2 separate regions of the Homo sapiens genome follow, and region 1 is linked to region 2. The links come from fine-mapping of genetic effects on gene expression. Tissue or cell type: sun-exposed skin. Region 2 holds a variant in brackets; the other region holds the start of a gene. All regions are shown on one strand. Distances are between the middles of the regions.

Region 1 (8,084 bases), 42 kb after region 2:
ATCTCAGCTCACTGCAAGCTCCGCCTCCTGGGTTCAGGCCATTCTCCTGCCTCAGCCTCCCAAGTAGCTGGGACTACAGGCGCCTACCACCACGCCCGGCTAATTTTTTGTATTTTTAGTAGAGACGGGGTTTCATCGTGTTAGCCAGGATGGTCTTGATCTCCTGAGCTCGTGATCCGCCCGCCTCGGCCTCCCAAAGTGCTGGGATTACAGGCGTGAGCCACCGCGCCTGGCCTCAGGAGGGACCATGTCTTACTCCTATCAGCCTCCACAGCTCTCAGCACAGGTGCTTGGCACATAGGTGCTCAGCAAATGTTTGCTGAATGAGAAAGTATAATGGGTGTTCACAGAATAGAGAGCTGGGTGTTGTCTGAAATAGAGAAGGCTTCTATGGAGGAAGTGGGATTTGGCTGTACTTCTGGTCTCCCTCTACTAATGCTTCCGTTCCTAACATCTTTATAATTCTGTGTGGGTCCACCTCCTAATCTAAATTACATTCCTGGCTTGGAGGATGAGGGAGCCACAGGAATTCTGTCTCTGACCTGCCACTATCTCTTGGCTGAGGATGTTCTGGTGGGGACAATGGCACTTGAGTGTGCTGACCTCTTGTTGAGTGACCCTGGGTACTACTTTGGTGGCCCTCAAATTGTGACAACCCTACCTTCTGCAGGTGGAGTCACCCTTGTTACTCCACGGACTGGGCCTCCACTGGATGTTGTCAGTTCACCCAGAGATAATCAGGTCCTGGAAATCTGATCCCCCAAAAAACAAACTCACAAGAGACAGATTAACAATTAAAGATGAATGTAGGCTGAGCGTGGTGGCTGATGCCTGTAATCCCGGCACTTTTGGAGGCCGAGGTGGGTGGATCTCCTGAGGTCAGGAGTTTGAGACCAGCCTGGCCAACATGGTGAAACCCCGTCTCTACTAAAAATACTAAAAATTAGCCTGGCATGGTGGCAGGAACCTGTAATCCCAGCTACTCGGGAGGCTGAGGCAGGAGAATCTCTTGAACCTGGGAGGTGGAGGTTGCAGTGAGCCGAGATCGTGCCATTGCACTTCATCTTGGGCAACAAGAGCGAAACTCCGTCTTAAAAAAAAAAAGCCACCATGTAATTTTAATTTATATCAGAGCTGGCTTGACACCCCGGCTGGTCTGCTCAGAAACCACATTATGGTGCAAAGTGTTCGTTTATTAAATATATTTATAAAATCTGAGCATGGGAATGGGAGGTAGCTGTGGGACCCTGATAAACAGTGCCAAGGTTTTCGAACTGTGATCACCAGACCAATAGAATCAGCATTTCTTGGGAACTAGTTAGAATTGCAAATTCGCATCACTTTCATCCCCTCCTGTTTCAGACCTAGAAATGTTGAGGTTTGTGCCTAGCATCCTGTATTTTTAACAAGAACCCTCAGTGAACATGATGCACACTGAAGTTTGAGTACCACTGACTTAGAGAAACTTTTTTTCTAAAAAACGAAGACTAGCTGTCAAACATTATAGCACTCTTTCCTCAACAGAGCTCATTAAATCCTAGCATTTTTGTCTCCAGCCCATTTTCCTGACCCTTTCTTTCTTTCTTTTTCTTTTTTTTTTTTTTTGAGATGGGGTTTTGCTCTTGTTGCCCAGGCTGGAGTGCAATGGCATGATCTCGGCTTACTGCAACCTCTGCTTCCCGGGTTCAAGCGATTATCCTGCCTCAGCCTCCAGAGTACCTCACCACCACACCCAGCTAATTTTTTGTATTAGTAGAGATGGGGTTTCATCATGTTGGCCAGGCTGGTCTCGAACTCCTGACCTCAGGTGATCCATCCGCCTCAGCCTCCCAAACTGCTGGGATTACAGGCATGAGCCACGGCTCCTGGCCCATTTTCCTGACCCTTTCTGTTTGCATTGGACCTTAACTGTTATTCTATAACGTCACCATTTACTGGTATTTTATAATCCTGAATAGATTGGACTGATCCCTGATAAGATCCTAGGGATGCTCTTAATGTCTTTAGTGCATACTTGCAGTTTGTGTTTTAGATTGGGATAGTTCAACAAGAATTTCCAAAATGAATAATGCCAAATATTTATTTGATTTGTTACCTTAAAGTAACACGTCCTAACCTTTCCGCAAATTTTGGGGTTCACCTTACTTAGGATATCAGTTTGTGTTTTTTCTGATAGTTGACCACGCTTTTGCTTGGCTCAAATATTTGTGAAAATAACTTCTCACCCTCACCCCCCCCCCCCAAAAAAGAAAAAACAAAACCAAAACCAAAAAACCCCAAACAAACCCAAACACAGAAAGAAACAAAACTGCAGATTTCTAGCGGGAAGAGTTTGCCAGCTTGTTGGACAAAGACTGTGAGATGAATGGGAAATGCAGAAAAGACAGAAAACAAAGCTTCAACTGCATACAGCACATTTAGTTCAATATGCCTCAGCACAGGCCGAGGAAAATGGGTCCTGCGGTTTATTCAAGATGCCTCAGGGCCTAAATGAGGGATGGACTGATTCACACTTGCTGTGATCTCAGCCTGGACCAAAGCTACAGAAGGGTCCTCGTGGGTGGCTGAGGACTTTCACCAGGCGGGCCCCGGGAGGAGGAAGGGACCCCAGAGTCCTCAGGAGGGGAGGGCAGGCTTAGGAAAAAAAAAAAAAAAATCCTACCATCTTCACGTTTGTTCTGTCAAATTTAAAAGAGACTTTAAAAACGTTCATGTAAGTTTCCCTGGCTTCTCCCTGGGTACACACGTATCCTTTTTACTTTCCCCAACTCAGTTCTGTGGTGCGTGGGAGGCGCTGCAACAGAGTCTCGGTCCGGACTGGAGCCCCGGCGAGGGCCGACCCCGTTCCCCACGCAGCTTTCCCTCGCGAGGTTTCGCACTTTCCAGCGCGGTTCCTTCCCGCAGCCCTCCCGGCTCCCGCGTGGGACGCAGAGAGAGGTTGGGCGCCGCGCTGGCCCGGGAGTGGCTTACGCCTGACGTAGCCCCGCTGGAGGCCGTGGCACGCCCGCCCTGGCGTCAACTCCCGCGCCCCGGGTGAGGGTGGGTGGCCGCGCCTGGGTCCCGGACGCCGCGGGCGCTGAAGGCCTCGGGAGGGCGCGGGGCGGCGGCCGCGGGCGTGCGGTCCTACGGGCTGCAGGGGGCGCTGTGCGCGTCCTCAAGCTCGGCCGCCGAGCGCAGCTCTTTTTTAAAGGGCCAGCGGGGCACGTGGCTCGGGACGCAGTTCGCTGCCGCCCGGCAGTAGCTCTCAGGTTAGGCGGGTCCCGCTCCGCTTCCGCCGTCGCTGCCGCGCCGCCCCGGGCCCGACAGGCCGGGTCCAGGGACTGCAACCCAGCGAGGGACGCGGGCAGCCATGGCCGAAGCGGCGCCTGCCCGGGTAAGCGCCCTCGGCCCCGCGGACGCCCGGAAGGCCCAGGCCGCCGCCGCGTGAGCCCGCGCGAGGGACTCTGGCCGCGCGAGGCCGCGGGGTGAGAGGGCCTTGCGCGCAGCCTCCGCGCTCGTTGCCCCCGGCCCATCGCCCAGCCCGCGTCGAAGGCATTGACCGGGCGGCCCAAATGCCAGGCCCGGCGGGCGGGGCCCCGACGTCAGCGGCTGACGATCCGGCCCATCTGCGGCCTCAGCCAGGCCGGGCCCCAGAGTCACGCTCGGCGACGAGGAGGCCGCGCCTTAGGAGTATTGTCCCATTTGAGGCCTCGCGGCCCCCCCTACAGCAGGCTGGGCGGGCAGGGGCCGCCAGCCCCACGGGACAGTAGCGGAGGCTGAGATGGGAAGGGACAGGCCCAGGGTCACGCATCTATTAGAGGCGGGAGCCTCACGCCGGGGCAGGGATTTTGGAATTAGACACTTTAAAACGCCTCATATTCTACTTTTGCCAAAGAGAAAGATTGTGTCGTTTACAAGAGAGATAGTAGATTTTTTTAAAAAAGATTACTGTAGCAGATTTTATTTAATTTTTTTTTTTGAGAGGGAGTCTCGCTCTGTTGCGCATGCTGGATGGAGTGCAGTGGCACGATCTCGGCTCACTGCAAGCTCCGCCTCCCGGCTTCAAGGGATTCTCCTGCCTCAGCCTCCCAAGTAGCTGGGACTACAGGCGCCTGCTACCACGCCTGGCTAATTTTTCTATTTTTGGTAGAGACTGGGTTTCACTATGTTGGCCAGGCTGGTCTCGAACCCCTGACCTCGTGATCTGCCCGCCCCGGCCTCCCAAAGTGCTGGGATTACAGACGAGAGCTACCGCGCCCGGCCATTTTAAAATTTTTTAATTAAAAAAGTATATATATATACGTGTGTGTGTGTGTGTGTGTGTGTGTGTGTGTGTGTGTGTATATATATATATATATATATTTTTTTTTTAGACACAGTCTCACTCTCACCCAGGGTGGAGTGTAGTGGCGGGATCTCATCTCACTGCAACCTCTGCCTCTGCCTCCCGGGTTCAAGGTATTCTCCTGCCTCAGCCTCCCAATCCCAAGTAGCTGGGATTACAGGCGCAGGTGCCTGTCTCATTTATATCTATCTATCTATCTGTCCAGATACATATCTATATGAATAAGTTTATTCATAAGAATACACTATAAGTATTCCTATACAGAATTTTTCTCCTGGAGAAGGAAGAATCACATCAGTTTTTTTGGCATCTTCATCTATATAAGTTAGGCCAGTTTAGCAGATTTTAGAATCTTGGTTTGATATAGTGCAGTATGTCCAATTGGGAGATTATAATCCTTTGGCCATTTTTGACATACTGGAAAACGCTTGTAAAGGCTCAATAGATGATACCTACTATTATTAATACACCTCAGTGAAGGTTTTGAAACCTTGATTTTTCTGGATACTTTTATTAAAGTATAACTTCCTCTCCCTCCTCTTAGTGAGTGTGCTGAGCTTCTTTTTGGGTTCCCTGAGTGCAAGGGAGAGAAAAAGCGTTGAGGATTCTGCAGGTTTATAGTCCTGTTCCCTGGGAAGAGGGGGCCCTAGAAGGTGACATCATCCACTCCCCCTAGCCTGGGGCTCACTGCTTCACTACCTTTCAGATCACTCCTGTCCACCTGCTCCTCCCTTCTTGCAGCACTTGAGATCCCAAAAAACTCCCCAAAAGGGACAGATTTGCCCTGGACTCTTGTTAGCCCATCCTATCACACTGTTGTTGTTTATAAGTATTCCTATACAGAATTTTTCTCCTGGAGAAGGAAGAACCACATCAGTTTTTTCTTCATCTTCACTGTACATTTACTATGATAGGTGTTCAGTAATTGTTATTGAATGAATGAAGCAATTATAGATTACTAGTGCTAAGGGGGAGGGGCAGTGAAAATCTCTAGGATGCGTTGTCTATGCTAGAATCTTAAAAACGAGAGAGACTCAGGCATACAGAGGATGCATATTGAGAGCTGATGTGAAGTTGGAGGAGGGCCGGGTGGGTCCTCGGAATCCACAGGAGGCTGGCATGGCTGGAGCACGACAGGAACTGGATGGCTCAAGGTCAAGAGAGGTCGGCTGGGCCATGAAGAAGTCTAGATCTTATGCCAGGTACACTGGGAAGCTATTGAAGAGTTTTAAGCAGGGTACTGAAATGATCTATTTGTGTTTTTAAAAGATTACCAGGCCGGGAGCAGTGGCTCACTGACTCACGCCTGTAATCCCAGCACTTTGGGAGGCTGAGGCGGGCGGATCACAAGGTCAGGAGTTTGAGACCAGCCTGGCCAATATGGTGAAAGCCTGTCTCTACTGAAAATATAAAAATCAGCTGGGTGTGGTGGCGGGCGTCTGTAGTCCCAGCTACTTGGGAGGCTGAGGCAGGAGAATCGCTTGAACTTGGGAGGTGGAGGTTGCAGTGAGCCGAGATTGCGCCACTGTACCCCAGCCTGGGCGACAGAGCAAGACTCCGTCTCAAAAAAAAAAAAAAAAAAAAGATTAACAATTACTCTGTGGAAAGTGTATTGTCGGGGAGAAGCCTGGAAGTAGGGGAGAAGGCTGGAAGTGGGGGAGAAGGCTGGAAGTGGGGGAGAAGGCTGGAAGTGGGGGAGAAGGCTGGAAGTGGGGAAATCAGGTGGGCAGGACCGCAGTGGCCCAGGCCAAGCAAGGTGATGGGAACTTGGACTAGACACTGGCAGTGGAGAAGGAGAAACATGGATGGATTTGAGGTAATTTTGGAAGTTAGGACCTGATGGTGATTTAACCATGAAGGATGAATGAAATTGAGGAGTGAGATGTTGATTTGTCTCTCCAACAAGGCTTTTAGCAGCACCAACCAGGACTGTGCCCATTGCGCATGCACAATGAGGGCTTGTGAATCAGATACCAGGGTAAGCTGAGGCACTTGAGAAGCTTTTTCCAAGGCACTGAAGGACAATGGAATAAAAGAGGTGGAGGTTAAAAAAAAGGCCATATGAACTATTTATACCATATCCCTGAGCTGGAACCATCACCATAATCACTGTCATTGTCTCAGTCTGCTCAGGCTGCCTTGGTTCCCGGCAGGGCTCTTTTCCTGGTTTGCAGACGGCTGCCTTCTCATTGTATCCTCACGTGGCATACAGCAAGATCATCTCCCTTGTGTCTCCTCTTACAAGGGCGCTAATCCTATTTATGAGGGCTCTGCCTTCATGGCCTAATTGCCTCCCAGAAGCTCCACCTCCAAATACCGGCATATTGGGGATTAATGCTTCAGCAGATGGATATTGAGGGAGACACAAGCATTCATTCCATAGCAGTCAGTGTCATCTTAGCCCTGCAACATGGGGCTCATGTTTATTATCTGTGCTGTGCTACACATTGTACTAAGTGCTTTGTACACAGATTTTTCTTAATTCTCTCAGTGCTATTGTATAGGTACTATTATTATCTCCATTTTCTAGATAGGGAAGGGAAGTTGGAAGCTGTTGAAAACACCTTGCCCACAGTTGGCCAGCTTGTAAGTGGCAGAGCTGAGTTGCACCTGGGCTGTCCACTGGGGAGTCATGTTCTCTGTGCCACAAAGCCTTGTCCTTTCATTTTTAGAAGAGGAAACTGAGACCCAAGAAGGGGAGTCACTTGTTTGAGACTGCACGTGGTTGCTCAAGCCTGTGGGGCATGCCCCGTCTCCATAGCTAGCCTGTAGGACAGGAGCCGGGGCTGTTTTTCTTCCACTTTCCCACTTGCTGACACGTTGGTCCAGCCACTATCTCTTGTATCAGTTAGGCTGGATTCCTAACTGATACCCTAGCCTCTCCCTCTCCCCCCCAGTCTGCTGCTAACTCAGGAGCCCAGATGGGACTTTACCATGGCAGGTGTCATTTCCGAAGTGTGTTTTTGAGGTGGAAGTTTTGATTGTATAATTCTCATAACATCTCTCTTTTCTCTTCTTGTGAGCAGGACCCCGAGACAGACAAGCACACAGAGGACCAGAGTCCTTCGACACCCTTGCCCCAGCCAGCTGCTGAGAAGAACTCGTACCTCTACTCCACGGAAATCACACTGTGGACGGTGGTGGCCGCCATTCAGGCCTTGGAGAAGAAGGTGGATTCCTGCCTGACCCGCTTGCTGACTCTGGAGGGGCGCACGGGGACAGCCGAGAAGAAGCTGGCCGACTGCGAGAAGACAGCTGTGGAGTTCGGGAACCAGCTGGAGGGCAAGTGGGCCGTGCTGGGGACCTTGCTGCAGGAGTACGGGCTGCTGCAGAGGCGGCTGGAGAATGTGGAGAACTTGCTGCGCAACAGGAACTTCTGGATCTTGCGGCTGCCCCCGGGCAGCAAGGGGGAGGCCCCCAAGGTAGCACCGGGACACCCTGGGGTGGGGGAGCTCGAGGGGCTGAGCCTGTGAGCGTGTGGGTGAGTGAGTGCGACACTTATGGTTCCAGGTGCCCGTGACCTTCGATGATGTGGCCGTGTATTTCTCTGAGCTGGAGTGGGGCAAGCTGGAGGACTGGCAGAAGGAGCTCTACAAGCACGTGATGAGGGGCAACTACGAGACGCTGGTCTCCCTGGGTAAGGCCACGGAGGGAGGATCTGGGCCTCTGTCCACAGGTTGTCTGTGGACAGTCTGTGTCTTTGCTTTGGCTTTTGGTACTTTGGGCATCTCTGCATCTCTGTGGGCATGTGGGGTCCAGC
Region 2 (8,101 bases):
CTCCAGCCCTGGGATATGTAAGAGGGAAATAACTGGTATCCGTTTGACTCAAAGGCAGACCTCAACCCAATTGGATATTACATTCTTGTAAAAGGGACTCCTGAATTTATTTATTAATGAGTGTATACTGAGTCTCGCTCTCAGCATGTTAGTGTAAGACAAGAAGAAGATTCAGTTTGCCCAAAGTTAATGTACATCAGTGCCTCCACTGAAGCAGGAAGCGTAGCTAGGACTCTGGAGTGCAGTGGCTAAAAGGTGCTTCCGGAGTGAGAGGTGGTAAAGATCCTGAAGCTGGGCCACCATTCCCAGGTGCCAACACCCACAGAATATGACGTGAAAGCACCCTCTTGAAATTCCCACATTATTCACTACATTGGGTTAAAACAGTGGTTCCAACCTTTCATAGTTTATATTTTTTTTAGCAGGTATTTACTTAATGCCTGCTATGTGTTACACAGTATTGTAAGCACTTAGAATAAGCAGTGAAGGGCCAGGTGTGGTAGCTCAGGCCTGTAATCCCGGCACTTTGGGAGGCCAAGGCAGTTGGATCACCTGAGGTCAGGAGTTCCAGACCAGCCTGGCCAACATGGTGAAACTCCGTCTCTACTAAAAATACAAAAAACAAACAAACAAACAAACAAAAAACAACTAGCCAGGAGTGGTGGTGGGCACCTGTAACTCCAGCTACTTGGGAGGCTAAGGCAGGAGAATTGCTTGAATCCGGGAGGCGGAGGTTGCAGTGAGCCAAGATTGCGCCCCTGCACTACAGCCTGGGTGGCAGAGTAAGGCTCTGTCTCAAAAAAAAAAATTGGGAGTGAAGAAAGACCTTTTCTTTTGTGGGAAGAGGATGAATAAGCAGGCCAGCAAGCAGGCAAGGTAAAGCCAGGATGCAGCAATGCTCTGAGAACAATGGCAGGGAGAACAGGAAGGAGTGTGGACATGAGGCAGAGCAAAGACAGAGTGGTCAGGAAAGGCCTCCGAGGGGAAGCGGTGCCTGACTGAGTGTGCCCTTGGCAGTGGGAAGGAGCCGGCCGTGGGGTTGCAGGGGGAAGAGAAGACCAAGAAGAGGGAAGTGAAGGCAGGGCCATGGAGGCTTTGGGGAGGAGGATGGAGCCGTAGACTGAGGCACCTGAGCATGTATGACCTATGGGCCAAGTTAGAGTTTGGATTTTATTCTTACAAGAAAGGAGACTAGGCCGGGTGTCATGGCGGGCACCTGTAATCCCAGCTGCTCGGGAGGCTGAGGCATGAGAATCCCTTGAACCCAGGAGGTGAAAGTTGCAGTGAGATCATGCCACTGCACTCCAGCCTGGGTAACAAAGCGAGACCCTGTCTCAGAAAAAAAAAAAAAAAAGAGAGAGAGAGAGACTAATAAAGGGTATGAAATCGGACATGATCTGGTTTACGTTTTTATAGGATTTCAGGAGTGGATTGGCGGGGGGTGCGGAGCCATGTCTGAGGCTCATGCATTTGATGCAGACCAAGTGGAGAGATGCTGGTGGTCAGAGCTGGGGTAGCAGCAGTGCACAGGGAGAGAAAGGACAGATTCAGATGCACTTTGAGAGTGTCACTCATGGGTTGCCTGTGGGGGCTGTGGAATCAAGACTGACTCCTGGGTCTGGGTCCTACAGAAGTGGGTGAATGGTAGTACTGTTTGCTGAAGTGCCAAGCCCTGGAAAAGAACCTGTGTTGCTGGTTCTAGTTTGGAGTCAAGAGTTCTAGTTTGGACCTATTAAAATTTGAGGTGACACTCAAGTAGCAGATCAAGTAGGTGAATATAGGAGTCTGAAGTTCAAGAGAGAGCTTGGGGATAGACTGATTTGGGAGTTACAGGTTGCAGTGACTTCCAACATCAGCGACCTGTAATTGGCCAAACCTCACAGGTTGAGGGCTCATGCCTCCACAGGACCGTTCTCTCTTCAGACACCAGCTGCAAATTTGGGGGTTCTAGGCCACCCTCACTTCTGACCAGCTGGCTACAAATTCTGGGCTTCCCATCACCCCGTCATAATTTGCTAGAATGACTCATAGAACTCAGGAAAGTGCTATATATATCATTACAGTTTTATCACAGCAAAAGGATTCAAATCAGAGCTAGCCAAAAGGAGATCCATAAGGCTAGGTCTGGGATGGTCCTAAGCCTGAAATTTCCATTGTTCCCTCCCTGTGGAGTCAGGATGTGTCACCCTCCCAGCATGTCAACGTGTGAAAATATGCAGAGCATTGCCAACCAGGGAAGTTCGCTGAGCTTTGGCGTTCCGAGTTTCTGTTGGGGCTTCTTTATATAGATATGATTGATTGAATCATTAGCCACGAGGTTCAGCTCAGTCTCCAGCCCCTTTCCCTCCCTGGAGGTTGGGCCTCAAACCCTAAACCTTTAGTCACGTGCTTGGTCTTTTCAGCATGGCAGCCCCATCCTTTGTCATCTCCTTAGCTTAAACTCTCTAAGATCCCACCATGAATAACAAAGGCACCCCTGTCACTCGGGAAATCCAGAGATTTAGAGGCTCCTTCCCAGGAACCAGGGACAAAGGCCAGTCAAGTTATTACACTTAGGTTGTTCAGGACTATATGAGTTCTAGGGACAGTGTAAACAAAGAATTAAAGAGATCTTAGCTCTGAGCATGGCAGAAAACCAGAGGGGCAAGGTGTTACAGAGGCTGGGAGAAGAGAATCTCTTGGGGAGGGTTAACTATGTCAGACACCCATGAGTGGTTGCATATGCAGGACAGGGAAGAGCCTGGGGGATTTGACAGGTTGGATATTGTTGGTGATCTCGGCAAAAGTTTTTCAATGGAGGTTGGGTGTGGTGGCTCACACCTGTAATCTCAGCACTTTGGGAGGCCGAGGCAGGTGGATCATTTGAGGTCGGGAGTTCGAGACCAGCCTGGCCAACATGGAGAGACCCTGTCTCTACTAAAAATACAAAAATTAGCCAGGCATGGTGGCAGGCATCTGTAATCCCAGCTACTTGGGAGGCTGAGGCAAGAGAATCGCTTGAACCTGGGAGGTGGAGGTTGCAGTGAGCAGAGATTGTGTCACTGCACTCCAGCCTGGGCAACAGAGCAAGACTTGGTCTCAAAAACGAAAAAGTTTTTCAGTGGAATGGCAAGGGTGCATGCCTGATTGGAATCATCTAAAAAGAATGGGAGGTGAAGAAGTGGTAAGGGCAAGTGCAGTGACTCTTGATGAGTCTTACTATGAAAAGGAACAGAAATGACATGTGAGGAGCTGGGGCACGGGCCACATGGGCCTAGGGAGGGGGTTCTTTTAAGGTCGGAGATAACTAGACCATTGTCTCGGGTCAGATGCTCCCAACTACTTTAGAACCCTGATTCAAACTGCCTTAAAGAATAAAGAAGCCGGGCACGGTGGCTCACGCCTGTAATCCCAGCACTTTGAGAGGCCGAGACGGGCGGATCCTGAGGTCAGGAGATCGAGACCATCCTGGCTAACACGGTGAAACCCCGTCTCTACTAAAAATACAAAAAAATTAGCCTGGCGTAGTCGTGGTGGGCGCCTGTAGTCCCAGCTACTCGGGAGGCTGAGGCAGGAGAATGGCGTGAACCCAGGAGGCGGAGCTTGCAGCGAGCTGAGATCGCGCCACTGCACTCCAGCCTGCGCAACTGAGCCAGACTCCGTCTCCAAAAGAAAAAAAAAGAATAAAGAAATTTCTTCTCTTACGTAACTGGAAGTCCTAAGGTAGGTCAGGTTCAGGCTTAGTTGATTCAAAGACTCAGCATGTTTTCAAGGACCCAGGTTCTTTCCAATTCCTTGCCTGACCATCCTCGGTGTGGCTTCATCCCCAGGCTGGTAGCACAGCAGCTGCAGCTGTCCCAAGCGTCGCATCCAGACATGAGTGTACAGGAAAGCCCATCTTTTCCTGCACACTCTAAGGAATGAGGAAATCTTTCCAGAAGCCTCCCAGCAAACTTCCCATACCCTACTGACCATAACTAGGTTACATGCTTGCATGTGAATCACTTACCAGCCAGTGACTGGAAAGGAAAAGCCCTCAGGGCCATGCATGGGTTGGGGGGGAGGGGCGTAGGATAGAGGAGGAAGGATGACGTAATCATTCCAGAGTGGAAAAGTAAAACCCACTAGAGACGTGGGCCAGGATGCCAGGCTGTGTGGAGGCCCCTGGAGGGTTTTTTTTTTTTTTTTTTTTGAGATAAGGTTTCACTCTGTCACCCAGGCTGGAGTACAGTGGCGCGATCACGGCTCACCGCAGCCTCGACCTCTCAGGTTTAAATAATCCTCTCGCATCAGTCTTCTGAGTAGCTGGGACCACAGGCGTGTGTCACAGTACCTAATTTTTAAATGTTTTTTTGTAGAGATGGGGTCTCCCTAGGTTGCCTAGGCTGGTCTCAAACTCCTGGGCTCAAGCAATCCTTCTGCCTTGGCCTCCCAATGTGCCGGGATTACAGGCATGAGCCACAGTGCCTGGCCAGCTTGTGCAGTTTTTCAGCTGCCTGAGTGCAGTCACAGGACTGGAGTTCTCCAGGCAAGCACAA[C/T]GGCGGAGCAAAGGCAATCACCGTGCCCTTGCAAGTGCCTGGGCTGCCGGGCCTGGAGAGCCAAGTTGGGTCAGGAAGGCAGAAAAAGGTTGGAGGTGGAGGGCATAGCGGGATGGTGAGAACGTGGATTGAGGTTCACACTGGGTTGGAAGACGGTCAGAGTAGGACTGCCTTAGGTGGGCTTCCCGGGAGACAGCCCCTGGGAGTTTATGTGCATATAGTTTCTTTGCAAGTCCTCTGGGAATAACACCTGGGAAGGAGTGAGAGTAGCAGGACTGGGTAGACAGAGAAGCAAACACCCTCAGTGCCGTGGCCACAGAGGCCACAGCGATCTCCCGGGATTCTCTGGAGCTGGGATGACCCTTCCCAGGCATCCTGCACTGATGTGAAGAGAATTCTTTTGGCCTCTGCACCTGGCCAGTGTCCTGCAGAGATGGTTCTCTGCCAGGCCAATTTTGATTGAGACAGAGAGGGAGGGCAGGCCCAGTCTATTTAAGAGTATCATATAAGGACAGACCTCAGTCAAACACCAACGAATATAGGAGGGCTGGGTGGAAACATGGCAGATGTGGCCTGGGAAGTGGCCTCCGGGGAGCAGTTGGGTCCTAGGCAGAGGGGTGTGAGCACGGAGAAAAGGATGCTGAGAAGAGGTGGGAGGCCGTCTCTTTCTTCAGAGCTCTTCCACAGGCTTCCCCTAAATTGGGGAGCAGGACTCCTCTAGGGAGAAAGGAATTCAAACTGAAGACCAGGGAGGTGATGGAGCGTGAGGCATGAGAACCACTGGGCTGGGGGACAGGGTGGGTGGGAGGGGGAAGGACTGGGCCTGACGTCACCATTCTGATGCTCAGAGCCTGGGCTTTGTCTCCCACTGCCCCCCAAGGTGGTGGAGAACTGTGCACTTGGAGGAAAGGGGGCAAGAACCGCATTTCCTGGGGTGGTAGGTTGGGTGGCCACTGCCACGAGTGCAAGGAGGGCCTGTTATGGTGCTGCCAAGGTCCAGGTGGGTCAGGTGCCAGGGTGGGACTCACATGTCCCAGCTGCCCACACCTGCCCAAGTCAGATGCCCCACATGCTTAGTGGAAACATGACTGCCAACCCATCTGATGCTTATGTTTCCAGCTCCCTGCATTCCATTCCTGTGGGCCTCTAGATGGTTTTCACCTTGGATAAAATTCTTTTCTTCCTATTGAGAGACTGTCCTGAGATAAAAGTGAGCATTGTCAGTGTGTGTGCTGGCTCACATCTGTAATCCCAGCACTTTGGGAGGCCAAGGTGGGAGGATTGCTTGATCCCAGGAGTTGGAGACCAGCCTGGGCAACATAGTGAGACCCTGTCTCAACAAAAATTTATTTTTTATTTTTTATTTTTATTTATTTATTTTTTGAGTCAGAGTCTCGCTCTGTCGCCAGGCTGGAGTGCAGTGGCAGGATCTCAGCTCACTGCAACCTCCGCCTCCCAGGTTCAAGTGATTCTCCTGCCTCAGCCTCCCAAGTAGCTGGGACTACAGGTGCGTGCCACCATGCCCAGCTAATTTTCGTATTTTTAGTAGAGATGGGGTTTCACTATGTTGGGCAGGATGGTCTCGATCTCTTGACCTCGTGATCCACCCACCTCGGCCTCCCATAGTGCTGGGATTACAGGCGTGAGCCACTGCGCCTGGCCTTTTTAAATTGTATTTTATTTATTTACTTTTTTGAGAGACAGAGTTTCGCTCTTGTTGCCCAGGCTGGATGCCTGGGCCAGTGCAATGGCAAGATCTCAGCTCACTGCAACCTCTGCCTCCCCGGTTCAAGTGATTCTCCTGCCTCAGCCTCCTGAGTAGCTGGGATTACATGCATGGGCCACCACTCCCGGCTAATTTTGTATTTTTAGTAGAGACGGGGTTTTTCCATGTTGGTCAGGCTGGTCTCCAACTCCTGAACTAAGGTGATCCGCCCACCTCGGTCTCCCAAAATGCTGGGATTACAGGCGTGAGCCACTGCGACCGGCCGAAAAGATTTGTTTTTTTTTTTTAATTAGCTGGGCCTGGTGGCGCATGCTTATGGTCCCAGCTACTTGGCAGGCTGAGGTGGGAGGATCACTTGAGCCCAGGAAGTCAAGGCTGCAGTGAGCCATGATCTCACCAGTGCACTACAGCCTGGGAGACAGAGCCAGACCCTGTCTGGAAAAACAAACAAACAAAAAACATTGTCCATCAGACTGCAAGTAAGTCTTGTTGTTTCTGGGAAATTCTGCCTTCCAAAATGACTTCTGGACAGCAGGTCCCCTACCCCTTAGCCCTCAGCGTTCTGGAGGGACTTCCTGTCCTTGCTGCGTGCCACCTGCTTGACCCGTTTCTGGGCTCCACAGCAGGGTGGCTTCGAACAGGTCGAAGGGCCACGTAGATCGTGGCCCAGCACCTTGTGCAATCCCTCGTAGTTAGTGGAACTGAGGCTCAGATAGCATGCTCCCTGGGCCCCCCTTCGGGAGCAGTGTGGGGTCCTGGCCGAGAACCCCTGTCAGCATGTCACTTCTTCCTATCTCCCCAGGTGACAGCCTGCTGATGGTGAAGAACCCACCCCCGGCCCCGCCACAGCCCCAGCCCCAGCCCCAGCCACCGCAGCCGCAGCTGCAGTCGCAGCCCCAGCCCCAGAGCCTGCCCCCCATCGCGGTGGCCGAGAACCCGGGCGGCCCCCCGAGCCGAGGGCTGCTGGACGACGGTTTCCAGGTGCTGCCCGGGGAGCGTGGCTCCGGCGAGGCGCCGCCGGGTGGGGACCGCAGCACCGGGGGCGGCGGGGGCGATGGGGGCGGTGGGGGCGGCGGCGCGGAGGCGGGGACGGGGGCAGGCGGCGGCTGTGGCAGCTGCTGCCCTGGCGGGCTGCGGCGGAGCCTCCTCCTGCACGGCGCCCGCAGCAAGCCCTACTCGTGCCCCGAGTGCGGCAAGAGCTTCGGCGTGCGCAAGAGCCTCATCATCCACCACCGCAGCCACACCAAGGAGCGGCCCTACGAGTGCGCTGAGTGCGAGAAGAGCTTCAACTGCCACTCGGGCCTCATCCGCCACCAGATGACGCACCGCGGCGAGCGGCCCTACAAGTGCTCGGAGTGCGAGAAGACCTACAGCCGTAAGGAGCACCTGCAGAACCACCAGCGGCTGCACACGGGCGAGCGGCCTTTCCAATGTGCACTGTGCGGCAAGAGCTTCATCCGCAAGCAGAACCTGCTCAAGCACCAGCGCATCCACACGGGCGAGCGCCCCTACACGTGCGGCGAGTGCGGCAAGAGCTTCCGCTACAAGGAGTCGCTCAAGGACCACCTGCGCGTGCACAGCGGCGGCCCGGGCCCCGGCGCCCCACGGCAGCTCCCGCCGCCTCCTGAGCGAGACTAGGGCTGGGCTGGGGGAGGGCAGGGCCGGACGGAGTGGATCGGGGGCGGCCTGAGCACCAACCACCTTGCCGGGTGTCCTCAGCCACCGTCTGGAAATCGGCAACAGGCATTGCACTCCGGTTGGGGGTCCCCCAGGGTGGGGCAGGGATCCCCCAGATCTGTCTGGTCTGAATGGACGCCCAGCTCATCTAGGGTGGACCCAGCTGCTGGGGAAGAGCCAG

Alleles and levels. Positions count from the first base shown, and alleles are read on the strand shown. Sizes are in standard deviations (SD) of each study's normalised expression.
As copies of C replace T in region 2, the expression in sun-exposed skin of the gene that starts at base 3,212 in region 1 goes up (moderate effect, 0.50 SD a copy in GTEx).

The links. PIP is the estimated chance that this variant, and not a neighbour inherited with it, causes the effect.
Region 1: ZNF783 starts here. The variant in region 2 is fine-mapped to the expression of ZNF783 in sun-exposed skin (GTEx, PIP 0.98).

Annotation. Positions count from the first base shown.
Region 1 is chr7:149,258,985-149,267,068 of GRCh38, forward strand. It overlaps ZNF783 (zinc finger protein 783), which reads left to right and starts at 3,212. Exons shown (of 6, transcript NM_001195220.2): 1 at 3,212-3,373; 2 at 7,351-7,746; 3 at 7,835-7,961. The coding sequence starts at 3,350. It overlaps LOC124901769 (a long non-coding RNA gene), which reads right to left and starts at 3,357. Exons shown (of 2, transcript XR_007060582.1): 1 at 2,663-3,357. RefSeq lists a silencer at 2,810-3,679.
Region 2 is chr7:149,216,767-149,224,867 of GRCh38, forward strand. ZNF282 (zinc finger protein 282) reads left to right here. Exons shown (of 8, transcript NM_003575.4): 8 at 7,046-8,101. The coding sequence ends at 7,881. Among named protein-coding and RNA genes, the nearest start is that of ZNF212, 19 kb to the right of the region's middle. RefSeq lists an enhancer at 3,072-4,061. The variant C/T (reference allele first, on the strand shown) is at 4,518.